Regions from separate parts of the Homo sapiens genome. Here region 2 is linked to region 1. A link means that fine-mapping ties the variant in region 1 to the expression of a gene that starts in the linked region. Tissue or cell type: whole blood. Region 1 holds a variant in brackets; the other region holds the start of a gene. All regions are shown on one strand. Distances are from middle to middle. Region 1 has its middle 20 kb from the start of KRT77. Region 2 holds the start of KRT77 (keratin 77).

Region 1 (8,840 bases):
AGGTTAGCAGGGCTTTGGGGTGGGAAGCTGGGAAGAGGCCCCTCACCTTCTTCAGGACCACAAAGTCATTCTCTGCAGCTGTGCACTTGCTGACCTCATCTTCATACCTGTGAGAAAAAGGTCACCTGTGGTCTGCCTTCTCTCAGTCATCCCCATGGACCCAGAGCACATCCCATGAATCACATGGATTCAGGGCTTCTTGTCCCACCAGTTTAGCCCAAGGCCTGCATCTTTCCAATGTATGGCCTTCTGGGTTCAGGTAAGACCCAGTTCATTCTACAGACATTTACTAGCACTTAATATGTGCCAGGCACCACTTAATAATGATGATGATGATAATTGGACAGTGAAGTAGATACCCCTTCCTTATACTATTCTGATTGATCCTAGAAGGCTTTCTGGAGAAATTTTGATTTTTTTCAACTATTTATGGGACCAGAGGGAGATGGCTGAGCTGCCAAGAGCTTTCAGGGGAATTTTCTGGTGCCAACTCTGTGTACAGCAAGTACAGTAGCACCATGGGCTCTCCATAGGTACTTAGTGAGTATTCTACAGCAGATGCAGTCTCCAGAAAGATGTTTACAATCCTGGGTACACTGCACTCAGGCGGGAATTAGAGAAAACCACAGAGAAATGTCTCTCAAGCTGACCTTTTCCCAAGAAGGATCCTAGATGCAACTGAGCCCTGCATTTAAACTTAACCACTGGCTAAAGATGTCTCAAACTTTTATTTGCTATGAGACATTTCTGCACAAAATTCAAGGCTAGCCATATAAGCAGGGGAGTAACTATCAATCAACTGGTCATTCAACAAACATTTGCAGAGCACCAAGCAAGTGTCAGGCCTTATACTAGACACTCAGGATTCCAAGATCTCAGAAGGCCCCTTTGAGGATGATAAGGGCTACTGCTGAGACCTTGGGCAGCCAAACCCACTTGCTGTGGCGCAGCTGCATTTTCAGCATCACTTTCTGTTTTTCTGTAAACAAATTTTTTTTGAGACAGGTTCTCACTCTGTTGCCCAGGCTGGAGTGCAGTGGCGTGATCTTGGCTCACTGCAACCTCTGCCTCTTGGGCTCAGGCGATTCTCCCTCCTCAGCCCCCCAAGTAGCTAAGACTACAGGTGTGCACCACCATGCCTGGCTAATTTTTGTATTTTTTGTAGAGACAGGGTCTCACTATGTTGCCCAGGCTGGTCTCAAACTCCTGGACTCAAGTAGTCCACCTGCCTCAGACTCCCAGAGTGCTAGGATTACGGGCGTGAACTAACGCACCCGGCCTCTGTAAATAAATTCATCCAGACACCCAGATGTCTGCCAGGAACCAGCTAGGTACCTCTAGAAGGTCACTTAACTTTCAAGAGCTTCACCTCTAAAAAGGTGTGATGTTCCAATGTTAAGACTAACTTCTTCATCTTTGCCCAGGACACATATGAAAATGGGACCCCGCAAAGAATCACTACAAGCCCTTTCTGTGAGGCCTACTATTACCCCAGGGTCACAAAGAGATCTCCACACATTGTGCCCCAAGAGTACTGATGACACTCTCAGCAGCTAACCAAGCCCAGACACCACACAGTCACCACTGTCATTGCCATGGTTTCCCTTGCATGGAATGTCCAGAACGCAGACACCCCCATAAACCATTCATTCAGCCAGGCCCTTGCACGTATACGTGCAAACAAGCCTCACATGCCGTCAACATTTGCAGTTCCTCACACTAAAATCATCCTATGAGAAGCACCTAGGAGGAGGTGCCCCTTAACCCTCATCTCACGTCACAAAGCTGATGGCAGGTTGACTCATCCCTCAAATACAAATTCAGCTTGGGCAGAGTCATCCTCTCTTTCAAAGACGAGCAGCTTGCAAATCCTCTGAGATGGAGGGGGAGTTCTGCGTTTGGGTTTCAGAAGGCAATGGTTAGGAGACATCAATGATGGCAGCCAGCAGTCCCCAGAGCAGCAGCCTCAGCAGCCCCTCTGAGGAGACGAGGGACGGGGCACACAGAGGGATGGCACCTCCATCCAGGGAGGGGCTACAGCGTTTTCCTCACCTGTTGCTGCTGTAAGCAGGCCCACTACTGCTGAGATACCACAGAGGGCTTGACATATTGGGTGAACCCACAACTCCTTCCTCAGACTCATAAGGAGAAGAGGGAAAAAAAAGACCAACACAACTGAGCCAGATTTCCTCACTGTCTAGCTGGCTTGAGATGGGCTCACCTGTCGATGAAGGAGGCAAACGTTGTTGAGGGTCTTGATCTGCTCCCGCTTCTGGGCCTTTACTTGCCCAAACTTAAGGTCAGTCTCCTGGAGGGGCTGAAGAAGGCTCTGGTTGACAGTCACTTCCTGGATTCCACCCAGGAAGCCACCCAGATCACTGAGGTCACGGAGGCCACCAAAGCCACCAGGACCACCAAAGCTTCCAGAACCACCAAAGCCACCAGCTCCTCTGCAGAAACCCCTGGCTCCTCCTCTGAAGCCTCCAATTCCTCCGCCAAAGCCCCCAGCTCTTCCACCAAAGCTTCCACCCATCCCTCTTCCACCACCTCCAAAACCACTGCCTCCAAAACATCCCCCACCAGGCCCCCCGAACCCACCAGCCCCGCTGAACCCACTAGCCCAGGTGCCACCTCCAGCCACACTGATAGGGATCGTCTTCTTCCCCCCAAGGCCATGGAGACTCTGGCTGCAGAAACCTCCCCCCATCATGGCACAGGCAGCAGACCCACCCACCACCAGCCCTTCCTGAGCTGGAGGCAAAGGAGGACATGATGGAGCTGATCCAGCTGTGGCCTGACACCACTGCTAAGTGGCTGCTGAAGGTCTGGCAGTAGGCCCCACCAGAAGACCTGCAGGGCTGCTGGCTGTAGCTTATCTGGCGACTCATGGCAGACAGCAAGGTCTTCCAAAGGAAGGGTGGGCTCAGAAGGCTGGAGGAAACTCAGAAGCCTTCTGAAGTTCTGGGATGGGGATGGCCCTTATGTAGAGCCTGGGAGCTTGGCTGGCTGATGGTGCCAGCCACCTAACTGAGGTATTAGCAGCTTTGGTTTGCCTGGCAGCAAGAGGTCGAGTTCAAAATATGCAACACACCTTGATAATCCCTCCAAATTTCCAAATTACTTTGTTTTCCCAGGGTTACTTCCCTGAAATAACCTTAAATTGGGAGAGGAACAATCCTGTAGGGCTGGACACAACCCTTAATCCCCAAGAGATCTATGACCCCATGCTGAGAGTGACAGGTCAGCACTTCTCTGCCCCTCAGCCACTCAGCCAGACCAGCCAGCCTCAGGAGGTTCCCAGGATGGGTGCACAGCCCCAGTGGGGGCAGGACCCCAGGCAAGGACTCCAAGGAAGAAAGGAGAGGACGGGGGAGGGCTGTGAAGGTGACGTTGTGGCTGACAAGGAGAAGGAAGTTGCAACAGAAGTTCAAGAATGCACAGCAGCTGCCTCTAGGACCTCATCCTTCAGGGAGGAGGTGCACATATGAATGCACAAAGAGCAAGTTCTCAGCCACAGGGACACCTAGAACTGGGTTCTAAGGGGCCTTGGAGGGAGAGCTGCAGGGGAGGAGAGAGGAATCAGTCTGACAAGGACAGGAATGAGCATGGCTGGAGAAGAAGTCAAGGTCACTGCCAAGTGCCCTAGGAGAGGGTGAGCAGAGAGAGGGGCTGAGGCCAGCCTGGGCAGGGTAGAGAGAATGGACCACTTGGGCCAGGCCAGAAAAACCATCAGCTTTTCCTCTTCCAAACTTGTACAACAAAAATGAATCCAGGATTCCCAAGACCCTCTTCCTTCAGTTCACGTGAGACACCACCCCCACCACCTAGGAAGCTCAGATCCTCACCAGTAAAATTTCAGAATAACAAGGGCTTCTTCTTAAGTCTGTTAGGGGCATAATATTTGGAAGAAGTTCTGTGTGACATGAAATGTTACTCACTTTTGTAACATTTACCTCTACTTACCTTTGGCAGCAAAGACTACCTTTGATGACACCAATCCTGACAGCACAAACCAAGGCTGGAAATGAGCCTCTGCAAAGGCCAGCCCCTTTTAAAATGACCTTTGCCTTTTCCTCTTCTAATCTAACCTCCAATTCCCTCTGATCCGTGCTCATCCAAGAACCCTTCTCTCATTGATCTCACCTTCTCCCCTTTGCTCAGACCTGACTTCCTAGCCACTCAGCACCTCCTTCTTCCCTTGCCAGCTCACTGGAGGGAGGGCCAGTTCAAACCAGTGACCTGCCAAACCTCAGGGAAGCCCCTATTCCTCTCCATCAAGTCACGAAAGACCCTCAAGTAAAGTGGAAGAGAATGAACTCGGTGGAGAGAGAGAGAAGCAAAACACACCATAAATTCACACCAACACACACACACACACACACACACACACACACAAACAGACATCACAGAACCACAGGCATGCCCACAAGGATGGACACGCTCATCACAAATCCCTGCCCAGGGCACTCTTCCCCATGCAGCCCTTCGTGCCACAGGTAGACATCGTCCTCACCACCTTCAAAACCTTGGTGCCTACCCCATCCCCCAGGGCCCTGATTCTTGCTCAAAGCTCCTTGCTGACCTAAGAAACCAAGATATGGCAGCTGGATCCAAATAGGGGCACAGACTGAGAGGAGACCCAGGTCCCAACTCAACTCAGCCACTGAGTCTTCCCCTTGCCAGGCCTCAGTTTCCTCCTCTGCACAATGAGGGCTTCAGACTTGAGTAGAGGATTCACGTTGGACCTACTGAAGCCCCAGGGTTCAAATGAGGTATGAGTGGGAGAAAGGGATGCAGTGGGCAGTGTTCTGGTCTCATCACCACTGCCACCCTGACACCTCCATGCTGATCTCTGAAATGAAAGACTCTGCTGTTTAAAAACAATTTGGAAACTCCTGGGCCCATTGCCCTC[T/C]GGATCACTTCCCGTGCTGATGGTGGGGCTCAGCAACATAACATAAAACCGCTGTCTTTGCTCACATATGGGGCGGATCCTGACTCCAAAATCCAAGTCATGTTTTGGTTTCCAAGTGTGGCCTATGCTTTTGTCAAGAGAGGCCCCAGGAGCAAATGAGAAAAGGTGTCCCACCATCCTCCTGTCCCCCACTTGCCATTTGTAAATCCTTGCTATTGAAGGGGAACTCTGCAGAACAATTCACTGGTTTCCACCCCTTGGCCACTGCCAATGACCTGGCCCAGTCTGAATACGCAAAGAAGTCAGTTTGCATTTTAACATCAAGAACAAATCCCAAAGAGATTAGGGTGGAAGTTGGGGCTCTAATGAGGACCCATCCCAAATCCCTTCATTAGCAGTGGCAAATCCCACCAATCCCCCACACCTGCAAACTAGAAAAGTCCAGCTATTCTCCTCTGTTGCCTCTTCAAAAAAATTAGAGTGCACTGCTAGCCAGGGAGTCGCCAACCCTAGAATTAAACCATACGGGCCTTTCCTGGGGATGAGGGCACAGAGGCCCCAGGAGAGACACTGAGCCCTGCCCTCCCTCCTCTCCGTGGCCATGGCTATGCCTCCCAGGCTGGCACCTGACCGAGGCCCCTCTGCTCTGGGGCAGCAGTGCCCTCACCAGTGGAGTCCAAGGGCAGAGGAACAACCGCATCTGCCATTGTTCCTGCCATGAGGCAGTCCCAGCTTCTCAGGGAAATGGGGCCCTCAAATGCAGCACCCAGGGCTGAGGCCAGAGCTTGACAGTACATGGCATGGCAGTTGGCAGATGATGCTGGGCCAGGGAGGGCAAGTGGGGAGAGCAGAGTTGGGACAGAGTTGTGTGTGTGGGAGGCTTCAAGGGGAGCACATGGATGGGGCCCTGGGGCAGATTGGGCATGAGCCAGGAGGAGTTCAGCTCTGGTTCCCTGGGCAGACTGTCCCACTCTGTGCCCTGCAGTCAAAGGGGAATCTGTTCCATAAGAAATTGTTGGTTTTGTTTTGTTTTGTTTAAATGGAGTCTCACTCTATCACCCCGGCTAGAGTGCAGTGGTGTGATCTCCGCTCACTACAACCTCTGCCTCCTGGGTTCAATTGATTCTCTTGCCTAGGCCTCCCAAGTAGCTGGGACTACAGGCAGCCACCACCATGCCTGGCTAATTTTTGTAATTTTGTAGAGATGGGATTTCGCCATATTGGCCAGGCTAGTCTCAAACTCCTGACCTCGGTTATCCACCTGCCTTGGCCTCCCAAAGCGCTGGGATTAGAGGTGTGAACCACCGGGCCTGGCCAGAAACTGTTCTTCAATACCAGGTGACCTCTGAGCTGAGTCTCATTGAAGAGGGCCAGCCTCATGGCATCTGAAACTTAGGAAAAAAGGTCTTGGGCCAGGCAGCTGCAGCTCGAAACTTGGCCCAGCCCAGAAGGAGAAGGCCCAGGGAGTGAGGCAGCCTCTTCAATGTGCGCAGACCTACCTACCCCAGGAGGCGGGCAGAACAATGCCATGGAAAGCACCCTGGATAAAGGCAAGAGCCCCAAGTTCCAGTCTCCAGGCTCCTCTGGGCCTCCTTTTAGCCCATTGTAAAGTAGAGCTGATAAACCTCTTCTCTGCCTGTTGAGCCTCTACTCCTGAGCCCATCAAGGGCCAGGTGAGTGAAGTACAAAAAGGGCCTTATAAACTAGAAAGCAGGAGCGCCTTGGGAACTGAGGGATCACAGCGGCAGCAGGGAGTCAGGCCGTAGAATGCTAGCCAGGTAGCAGGCTCTAAATTGACACTTATAGACTTTTTCAACCTTCATGGCAACCCTCTAGCTCTTTTTTTACAGATGAGGGAAACTGAGGCTAAGGAGTTAAACAACTTTTCCAGGGGCCCACAGCCAATAAGTGGCAGAGCCAAGCCTCCAGTTCAGTTTCTGTCCCAGCCTGGAGCACATGCTACGGACTGAGGCATATACGACTCAGAGCTCTGGAAAGGCTCCTTGTGCAGGCACTGGCAGGATGTTCTGTGTCTGTCCCTTCCTTCTGTGTCTGTAAGTTCTCAGCTTACAGAACAAGCCCTGACTCTGAGCAATTGACCTGTATTTGATCATGTTTGCAAAGTGGTGTGGAATTGATAGAAAAGGCACAAACAGGACTCCGTGCTTCTCTAAGCATAGTCCTTAGAAGGGCACTTTGCATGGTTTTCCCAGCAAAGGGGATGGTTTGTGCTGCCCCAGCTTGCTCCTTCCTCAGCAGGATCAAGGGTGTGATTATGCAAGCTGATGGGCCAGGAGAGGGCCACAGTCTAGACCTAAAACCATTTCCCTTCCACCCTAAGCCAACTCATTTAGGAACCAGCCAAAGTCCCAGCCCCAACACGATGCCTCATATGACCAGCCTGGCCCCCTGAGCTCTCCTGGCCTCAAGCTCCTGGGACACTCATTGTCCCTATGGTGTCTATAAGTCAAAGAAAAATATCCTTACTTCTCAACCAGTGTAGAAGCCATGGGAGGGCAGGCCCCATACCCGGCACATACACCCACCCAGCTCCCAGCCAAACTTATACAATTCAGAAAGTTCTTGGTTCCTAAAAAAGCCAAGCCATAGCCTCACACGTGTACATGACACTTAATAGTATCTGGCATTTGTGGAGTGTCTTGAACTTGTTAAAGTCCTTTCATTTATCTACCCTGACAGACCAATGGGCAAACATGCCACACACAGACACACACCCTCTGTGACTCACAGACAAAATACTTTCATACAACCTGTAGCCCCAAATGAAAATGACAAAAGCATTAAGCATGAAGTAGGTTTAAAACTGATGCAGTCAGAAAGTAGAAGCCATCTCAACCCAACCACTGGCTCTGGTTTCTGCCAAGAAGCATGAAAATTGGAGCAGGGATCTAGAGTCAGGCATAATGGGTGCTCCTGCGTTCTGTTCAGAGAATCCAAGAAGGAGTGTCCAGAAGGGTTTCCCCTAGAACTTCATTCCCTCTAAGAGATGCAACATTGACCAGTATCCATTTAGTCATCTCTCCAAACATTTATTCAATCACTCAGCAATGATTCGTGGAGCACTTGCTTGTGTCAGCAGAAGGCTTCCCAGTAGAAGACAATGACACACAAAATACAGTTCATGGTCTGGGGGAGCCTACAGTTTTGTTGAAGGAAGTACCAGGCATGTAAATAACACCTTAGAGCACATTGGAGTCAGCGTTATTGACAGTAGATCAAAGTACTAAGGTGTGAGAGGAAGAAAGGCTATTGAAGGCATCATAGAGGAGGTAATTTTGAGTAGCGTACTGAGGGAGGGGTCGGAGTGGGCCCAGTGGGTGGACAATTCAAAAAAGACACCACTGGTAGAGAGAGGGAAATCTAATGTGGTGGGGGAAGTATTGGTAAGGCATCCCACATGTTCAGTATAGGCGTCATAATGGAGGAGGAGAGATGATGGGGAAGGAGCTGAAGGTGTAGGTTGAAACTGATTGCATTGGTCTCTTTGTGCTATGCTGCAGATTTGGGACTTTGCTCTGTGGGCAGCTACACATCAGGACCACTGGGCAGCTTTTAAAAATCCAGATCCTGAAGCCCTACTTCTGGTCTCCTGAATCAGAATCAGGGAGCATGGCCCGGGCACCTGGATTTTTTTAAAGCTCCAGTTTGCTTTAATTCTGATGGACTAATTCCCAGAATGTAAGCAATTTTACTAAAGGAGAAAATGTCCCCATTTTTATAAAAGGCTAGGGGAAGGGTAAGAGAGAGTCACTTGTCTTCACACAGGACATAGAGTTGGATCTAGTCCAAGGGCTGAGCCAAGCACTCAGCTCTAGATACAGGTACAAATGCTGCTGATTGGGAAGCGCCACTTACCAATCAGCAGGGACTCCAAGGGGCAGGCACCTTTGGAGCACATCATTAAGAA
Region 2 (8,840 bases), 19 kb before region 1:
CAGGCACTATTCTGGGTGCTAGGGATTTGGTAATAAAAAAAACAGGCAAAATCCCTGCTTTCCAGGAGTTTGCATTCTATTTAGAGAGATTACTATAAAGAAATAATCATGTAAAAAATACAGTGCCTCAGATGGCTGCAGGGACTATGGAGTCACACAGGGCCGGGGCATAGGAACACTGAAGTGGTGGTCAGGGAAGGCCCCACTGAAACTGTGGCATCTGAGCAAAGACCCACAGAAGGTGAGGGAGGAAGGTGGGCCTCTCTCTCGGGGGAAGAGTTCCATGCAGAGGGAATGGTAGGTGCAAAGACCTTGAGACAGAACTGAGCCTTGGATGCTGGTGAGCAAGAAGAGAGCAGGAGAGGAGGCAGAGGGGCACAGGAGGCTGCAGACAACAATGAGTTGGAAGCCTGGGGGCTGTTTTCCAGGCCTCACTCTGCTTACTAGCCATTGTATCCCGAAAGCTGTTCCACCCAGTGAGGGCAACGTGGCCTGATTCCACAAATGCAAGTGTGGGCTTAGCAGCAGCTGCGGGTTGAAGGGCAAGTAATATAGGGCCTTGTAGGACTTGGGCTTTTCTTTCAGTCGAGACAAGAAGCCACTGGAGGATTCAAATGGAGGAGTGTCGTGACATGCTTTTAAAGGATGGCTCTGCTGTGGTGTCAAGTATAGGCTATACAGGGTCAAGGGTGAAAGCAGGAAGACCAGTTTGGAAAGCAGAGTCAGAAGTCACCTGTCATAGAAGCCTTCTTCCTTCCAGCCAGGCCACAGCCCACCTGGCTGAGAAGCCTCTCCTCATAGTCATCATAGGCCATGCCCTTCGAAGGACAGGAGGCCCAGGTCTCTTGCACCCTAGCCTCTGCCCACTGCCCTATGCCATGCAACTGGACAGACCCTGTTCATGGCAGGGGCCATAATCAGATGAGCCTCAGGAGGTCAGTTGCCAGCGGCCTGTGGTCATTTCCCAGCCCTTTCTCCTCCCTGCTCCTCTCTTGGCCCAGCCGTGACCTCCGAGTAGTGACTCCTTGCTCCAGTGAAACCCTCTAACCCCTGCCTTTGCCTGAAGCGTGGTGATACTCAGCCAAATTTCCCACGCAGCATGATCGGAAGCCACGGGAGCACGCTGCTGTGTTGCGCTCCTCTTCGGCAGCCTCTGGGCCTCAGCACTCTCACCCTCCTCCGCCCGCTCACACACTGTCCCATCCCCAGCATCTGCTCAGATATCAGAGGCCTGCCCTGCCACCCAGTATGGCCTCTAGCCACAGCTACCCTGCAGTCAGGCCACAGGTCAAGCTCTGGCCTCAGCACTGAACTCCCGTGGGGACTGAGGGAAAGTCACTGAGTGTGCAAGCGGCCTTGGTGCTCTGTGGGGCTTCCCACTGCATCCCTGAAGGCAAAGTTCCTCCTGGGGAGGTGCTAGTGGCCGCTGTGCCTCGACCTCCAGACAAAAGGAGATGCTGGAGGGAGGTCTTCACCATGGCGAGTTCTCCAGCCTCTGCTGCTGCTTTGGACCTAATCTGAAGTTTCAACAGGGAACTAGGGACAGGGGCTTCTGTGTCTCCATCTGGCCCATCCTTGGCCCTTGATGAGCCAAAAGGGGAAACTCAGACAGAACCCTACATTGCATGCTATTGACTTTAGCCCCAAGAGATACCCACCACCAGGGCATTCACCATGCCCTGCCTGCTTCTCCTGCCCTGGCTCTGTGGCTTCATCTCCACTTCTCTCCTCCACCCCTTGGTATCCCATTTTCTCCAGGAATTGTAACTGTTTGAAATTCCCTAAACGCGTCACGCTTTCATGCCTCCTGGTCCTTCTGCCTGAAAATCCCCTCTGCCCTGAGAACCCATTTAACTCGTGCTCACTTCGGCAGCACATATACTAAAATTAGAACCCATTTAACTTTTCATCCGCCTTCCAGACTCAGCAAGCAGAGCTCATGACACCCTCCTTTGAGCTACCATGGCCCAGAGAGTACTACCCCTATTGACACACTTCACATACACTGTAGTAATTCTCTCCCCTTTAGACGTGGGCTCCTTGATGGCAGGACCTGTGTCCTAGTCACCTGTAGCACCTGGCACGATGTCTGGCCTATCATAGATTCTTAGAAAATATTTGTGGGCTAGATGGGTGGATGGATGCATGAGTGGATAGTTGAATGGATTGATGGATGAGTGAATGAACAGATGAACACGTGTGTGTGTGTGCATGTGTGTGTGTGTGTGTATAAATGGATTGTGTGGATGGGTGGGTGGATGGATGGATGGACGGAAGGGTGGATAGTTGGGTGGATTGATGAATAAGTGAATGGATGGATGTGTGTGTGTGTGTGTGTGTGTGTGTTTGTGTGTGTGTGTATAAATGGATTGTGTGGATGGGGATGGATAGATGGGTGCATGGGTGGATGGGTGGATGGAAAGTGAATAATTATGAATGAGAATGAGGGTACTACACCATGTATCTGTTGAGTATTTTAACACTGCTTATCTCCTTTCCTGCCAAAAGGAAAAGATGGAATTAAATCCCTGCAAGAAGACAAATTGAAGCCCAAATGGGTAAATGATTTTCTAAGGTCCCAGGTCAAGCTGAAACAGCACGATGTGGTGAGAGGTGGTAAGGTGTAATCTCTCTCAGTCATTTGGTCAGTGACCAATGACCCTCCCTGCCCCTGAGGTGCTCACCTTGTCAATGAAGGAGGCAAACTTGTTGTTGAGAACCATAATCTGCTCCCGCTCCTGGGTCTTGATCCTCTGAATTTCAGGGTCCACCTCCAGGTGAAGTGGCTCTAGGAGGCTCTGGTTAATGGTCACCTCTTGGATGCCCCCAGGAGGACAATAAGGACCAAAGCCCCCAAGCCCAAAATTGCTAGTCCCAAATCCAGCACCCCCAAAACCACCTCCTCCAAAGCCACCAGCCCCGGTGCTGCCAACCCCAAAGCCTCTGCCCCCTCCAAATCCCCCTACTCCCCCACCCTGGCAGAAACCACTGGTGCTCCTCCCCATTAGATTAATGGAGATGCTTCTACTGCCACCCAGATTGTAGAGGCTCCTAGAGCCAAACCCCCTTCCATGGATCCCATATCCACCACCACCACACCTCCCTCGAGCATAACACACAGAACCCACTGCCGGACTCCCACCACCAGAGCCTGCAGAAGAGCTGGTACTATAAACCCGCCTGCTCATTGAACTAAACGCGGACTGAGAACTAAATTGGTGGCTCATGTTTGCTGGAGCATCCAGAGAAGCAGGCAAGAGAAAGAGCCTGGCAGGAAGGAGGCAGAGACCAGAGAGGAAAGGAGCTCTGACTCCTTTGAAAAGATCTGGCTCCGGCTCTATATATATACACACACACACACATTACTGGGCTGGGCACCTTTACAATCCTGAAAGGGGAGTATTAATGTTTAGTTTGCCTGCCAGCAACATCTGTTTAAAACCTCACACCTGTGAGTTGCAGAAATCAGATTGCAGACAAACTTCCCCAACTCGATCATTTATCATTCATCTCTTGCCATTTAGAGATCAGAATGCAAGAATCTCTCAGGATCTCATTGCTGGAAACTTCTATACAGATTCTCCCCAAATCATCAGTTCATCTCTTCCTAAGAAACTCCACCATCGAGTTGTTTGTTTCTGGGATGTGCCTGGGAGATCTGGGGCAAAGTTAGATGGTGTTTAGAGACCTCAGGACCATAGCTGGGACAGAGGTGGAAACACTTTCTGTCACAGCATCGTCCTGGTGGGGCAAAAGTTTTGTTCCAATCTCCCCACACACTGCTTCTGCTCCCTGCAGTTATCATCACCATGAGCACCCAAAATTTTATCACATGGAAGTGCAATATTGTGGTCACTGAGTACAAGTGGAGGCCCACAGATTCTGCCCAAGGTCATTCACATTGTGTGCTGCTTGATAAGCCTCAGACTTCTCAAACACAAAACCACACAAGGTACTTCAGCACCAAAAGTCTGTGGTTATAGATTTGTTGAGCATCTACCAGTACCTAATATTGTCTTCTAGACCAGAAGACAAACCATCCCTAACTATCTCTCTTTCTGTTTTATCATTTCCGGTTCTTTATAGACAATACTTTTGTAAAATAGAATTAAAGGAATTACCTCCTAAAGATAATTTTTTAAAAAAGATATACAAAATGCAAGCCCAAATTTTTTTTATTTTTAGATTCAGCAAACAAAACATTGTTTAACTGCTAAAAATAGCAACAATAATAATAATTTTCTAAATGGTTACTCTCAAATTCTGTGCTTACCACAAGGCAATAGCAAAGCACGGTAGACCAGCACTAATCTGTGCTCACCCTCTGAGAAGCACGTCCCAGACAGCATCCTGGGGAAAAGCTCATTCAGTGAGCATCAGTGTCCGCCAACAAAAAAATGTGCGTTTTCCCTCTGGACTCAAATAGCTGTGGCTTTCATCCAAAATGTAATAATAATTTTTTTAACTTGGGGAAAAACTCTCCAGCCTTAGAAAAATGGCTAAGCGATGGCTTGCCCAATTGGATACAATTATTTTAAATCATCTTGTTGGAGACTCTGCAGCAGAACCGGCAACCACTTGTGATACTATGTACCATATTAAAGGGAAAGGGCAGACTACATGATGGAGTCTGCGCTGTGAACTCATAAGAATTAAGAATGCAGAAGGCCGGGTGCAATAGCTCACTCCTGTAATCCCAGCACTGTGGGAGGCCAAGGCAAGCAGATCACTTGAGCCCAGGAGTTCAAAACCAGCCTGGCCAATATGGCGAAACCCCATCTCTACTGAAAATACAAAAAATTAACCAGGTGTGGTAGCACACTCCTGTAGTCCCAGCTCCCACGGGTCAGGGGGGCTGAGGTAGGAGGATCACTTGAGCCTGGGAGGTCAAGGCTGCAGTGAGCCCTTATCGTGCCACTGCACTCCAGCCTGGGCAAGAGAATGAGACCCTCTCTCAAAAAAAAAAAAAAAAATGCAGATAAGACAGACTTTGTGAGTAACTAGAAAGTGAGTTGATTTATTTAGAGACTGTGGGAGGAGTTTTCCTAGGTTCTTTTGTTTGTTTGCTTATTTTTTTGAGACAGAGTCTTGCACTGTTGCCCTGGCTGGAGTGCAGTGGCACAATCTTGGCTCGCTGCAACCTCTGCCTCCTGGGTTCAAGCGATTCTCCTGTCTCAGCCTCCTGAGTAACTGGGATTGCAGGTGCCTACCACCACGCCTGGCTAATTTTTTGTATTTTTAATAAAGACAGGGTTTCACCATATTGGCCAGCCTGGTCTAGAACTCCTGACCTCAGGTGATCCACCTGCCTCAGCCTCCCAAAGTGCTGGGATTACAGGCGTGAGCTACTGTGCCCGGCTGAATTTTCCTGGTGTTTTAAATGTCCTTTTTCTTTATGTTCATTGCAATAAATATTTTTTGCTCACGCCTTTAATCCCAGCACTTTTGGAAGCCAAGGCAGGCGGATCACCTGAGGTTAGGAGTTCGAGACCAGCCTGACCAACATGGAGAATGCCATCTCTACTAAAAATACAAAAAATTAGCCGGGCATGGTGGCACATCTGTAATCCCAGCCACTTGGGAGGCTGAGGCAGTAGAATCACTTGAACCCAAGAGGCAGAGGTTGTGGTGAGCCGAGATTGCACCATTGCACTCTAGCCTGGGCAACAAGAGTGAAACTCCACCTCAAAAAAAAAAAGAAAGTTGTGGCAGAAATCCCAATAGAGGTGGGGAAGAACAGGTGGTAGAAACAAGAGCACTGTGGGGGCGCCGCAGTGAAAAGTCATCCTGGTACAGGGAAATGCTCCAAGGGCAATTCCAAGCTTCCACACCCTCTTCTCATGAACCTCTGCATTCCGTACATGGTATCTGTTCAGTGGGTCATCCAGGAGACACTGTGTGATAGAGGAGACAATGAGCCTGAAATTTATAGGCAGAAGCTCTGCTGCTTGCTGGTTGTGTCTAGAGCCTCAGACACTTAAGGAACCTAGAGCCTCTCAGACACTTAAGGAACCAAAGTGTCTATTTCTCAAGGATTCAAAGCTATATATAAGTCATGTGGGGAGAAAAAAGCAGAGCACTGGAATCACTAAACAAGCAGAAATAGCTGCTCACAGATCCTGGTGGGATGACAGCTGTCCTGCTTTGCCTAGGATTTTCAGTACTTAAACCAAGATATACCTGGGCAAATCAGAACAGTTGGTCACCCTAGTCCTAGGCACCTATGGTCCACACAGCCATACTCCTAACCCTAAGGTAAGAGAGGGAAGCCAGGGCCTAGCCTCCAGCACAGAGTGACAAGGAGAGAACCAGTAGAAGCAGAGGAAGGAAAGAGAGGTGAAGCTAGGGAAAGGGGTGGGTTCATGTGAGAAAGCTGCCTGAAGACCAGGATTCTGAGTCAGATATCAGAGGAGAGGCAGAAAGAACAGAGCAGGGGGAAGAAGTAGGGGTCTGGCTGAGAAAATGGGGGCTGATAGGAGAAGGGACAGTAAGTACCAGACAGGAAACAGCAGTGGTGTGGCGAACAGATCCTTGAGTTGGGCATCTTGAAACCCAGCTCTGACTCCTGGCTCCGCCCCCTCCTAGCCCCATGGCTGGGACACTTGACTCCTTGAACCTCAGTTTCCTGACCTCTAAAATAAAGAAAATAGTAACCAGGCGGGCACAGTGGCTCACACCTGTAATCCCAGCACTTTTGGAGGCAGAGGTGGGTGGCTCACCTGAGGTCAGGAGTTTTGAGACCAGCCTGGCCAACATAGTGAAACCTCGTCTCTACTAAAAACACAAAAATATATAATCCCAGCTACTTCGGAGGCTGAGGCAGGAGAATCGCTTGAACCTGGGAGGTAGGGGTTGCAGTGAGCCGAGATGGCGCCACTGTGCTCCAGCCTGGGCAACAGAGGGAGACTCTGTCTCAAAATATATATATATATAAAATAACAGCTTTGTAGAGTGATAGTAATGAATGGCTATGAACAAATATGGAAGAGCACTTTGCAAGCCCCAAGGAGTCACACAAGTGAGGTTCTGTTCCCCAACCCCTCCCTGTGAACCCACCTCTCTCTCCGGCTGCACCACTCACTTTCAACCCCACCTCCTCCTCATGAAGAATACACATAATTAACCCCTTCGCATCTGTCTCTACTGCCACCTAAACAAACAGGAAGCTCCTTGCTGTTGGGACAAGACTTCATGGACCAGGAGCCCCTTTCTTCCTGCAACTGCTGGGCAGAGTGGGCCAATAACAAAGGCCTTCATGACTGAGCTAAAGTAAAGAGACGTGGACAGCTTAGAGAACCAAGAGCTTGGGCCCCACAATTAAGTGCCCCTGGAGTTAAAGCCCAGCTCCCCCCATGTACCAGTTTTATGATTGAACTAATCACTGAGTTCCCTGAACGCTATTCATCTGACCCTTAAATAGAGCACTTGAAGACAACAAATATTTTAAAAGGCTTGCTCTTACGAGAGGTGTTATTGTGTGGCTGTGGCTACAGCATTGAGACCTATGAATGCGATGAGAGTTTTTAGAAAGACAGGCAGCTGGAAAAGGCTTCACAGAAGCAAAGGCAAGCTCAAGCTAACCTCGAAGGATGTACTGTAGGCCAGTGAGAGGGTGCTCTGTTGTAGGGACTGGGACTGGGAAGGACCAGAGAAACTGCTCGTGCCAAGGCCTAGAGAAAGGAACGGGCATGTGAGGGGGTGGGATGGGGGAGCCATGAAGAGGCCCCCTTGCCTCGAGGGAGCAACTGGGAAACCCTGAGGCCTGAGTTTGGCTTCGGTCACAGAGGGCTCCAGCAATGTCTTTGAGTGGAATTTGTTCAGCACTCGCCCAGGTTTCTATATACTGTCATGCTGAATGTGAAAATATTCCATTGTGATAACATAAAAAAGGAAGTCCCGGACAGCAGAGTTTAGGAAGCTTCTTTGATCTCTGTCTATGATCAGCTTTCAGCATTCAATGCCAACATTGTCATCTACCTCCCGTCAGCTGATGGCCCCTGCTGGGCTGTTGTCATCCCTTGAAGGGCTTGGGAGGGGAGGAGGGACACACCCACTAACTGAGCTTTTGGTGGAGGGTGATAGCTATGCTCTACTTCCTCAGAAGAAAAAAAAATGACTTAAAGTGAAGCACGAGAGATTTTGCTTGTCTCAAAGGAAGTGTTTCAACTCAGATCAATATTAGTGGGTAAATAATGTTCCTAGGACGAATCACTACCCCTAAAAGAAACTCCTCAGCTGGTTAGACTGCAGAGAGCAGCGGTTTCTAAACTGGCTCACACTGGAATCACCTAGAAAGCTTCAAAATCGCTGGTGCCTGGGCCCACACCTAAGGAGTAGAGTTTAATTGGTCTGGGGCTATGGTCTGGACTTTAGAATTTTTAAAAGGTGGTTTTAATGTGCAGCAAGTTTGGAGACCACTGACCTGGAGGAAACAGGACAAATGAAACAGCCTCTTTAGATTCCATTCAGTCTAAGGACACAGATAGGAGTAACAATCATTATCATAATAGTGAACTTCACCAGGTGATTTCCATGGACCATGCACTGTGCTGTCTATAACATGGAAGGTCTCGTGAAATCTAAATACCAACATCATAAGGAAGATATTCTTACTATGTTCATTTTGCAAATGGAGAAAGTGAGACTTGGAAAGAGAATCTTGTCAAAGAATACACTAATGAAAATAGTGGAATGGAGATTTGAACCCGCGCATTCCCACTTCAGAACCTACATGTATTGCAGAAGAGATGGGGTCGTTGGAGAGAGATGTGCCCGCTTCCTCCTCTCCCCACCTGCCACCTTAAAAGGAAAGTGGGAAGTTAGTTGAAGGCTGCAGCTCA

Evidence for each region.
Region 2: it holds the start of KRT77, and the variant in region 1 is fine-mapped to the expression of KRT77 in whole blood (INTERVAL, PIP above 0.99).

Annotation. Positions count from the first base shown.
Region 1 is chr12:52,718,923-52,727,762 of GRCh38, forward strand. It overlaps the pseudogene KRT126P. Among named protein-coding and RNA genes, the nearest start is that of KRT77, 20 kb to the left of the region's middle. The variant T/C (reference allele first, on the strand shown) is at 4,913.
Region 2 is chr12:52,700,208-52,709,047 of GRCh38, forward strand. KRT77 (keratin 77) reads right to left here and starts at 3,317. Exons shown (of 9, transcript NM_175078.3): 1 at 2,685-3,317. The coding sequence starts at 3,227. RefSeq lists an enhancer at 1,390-1,559.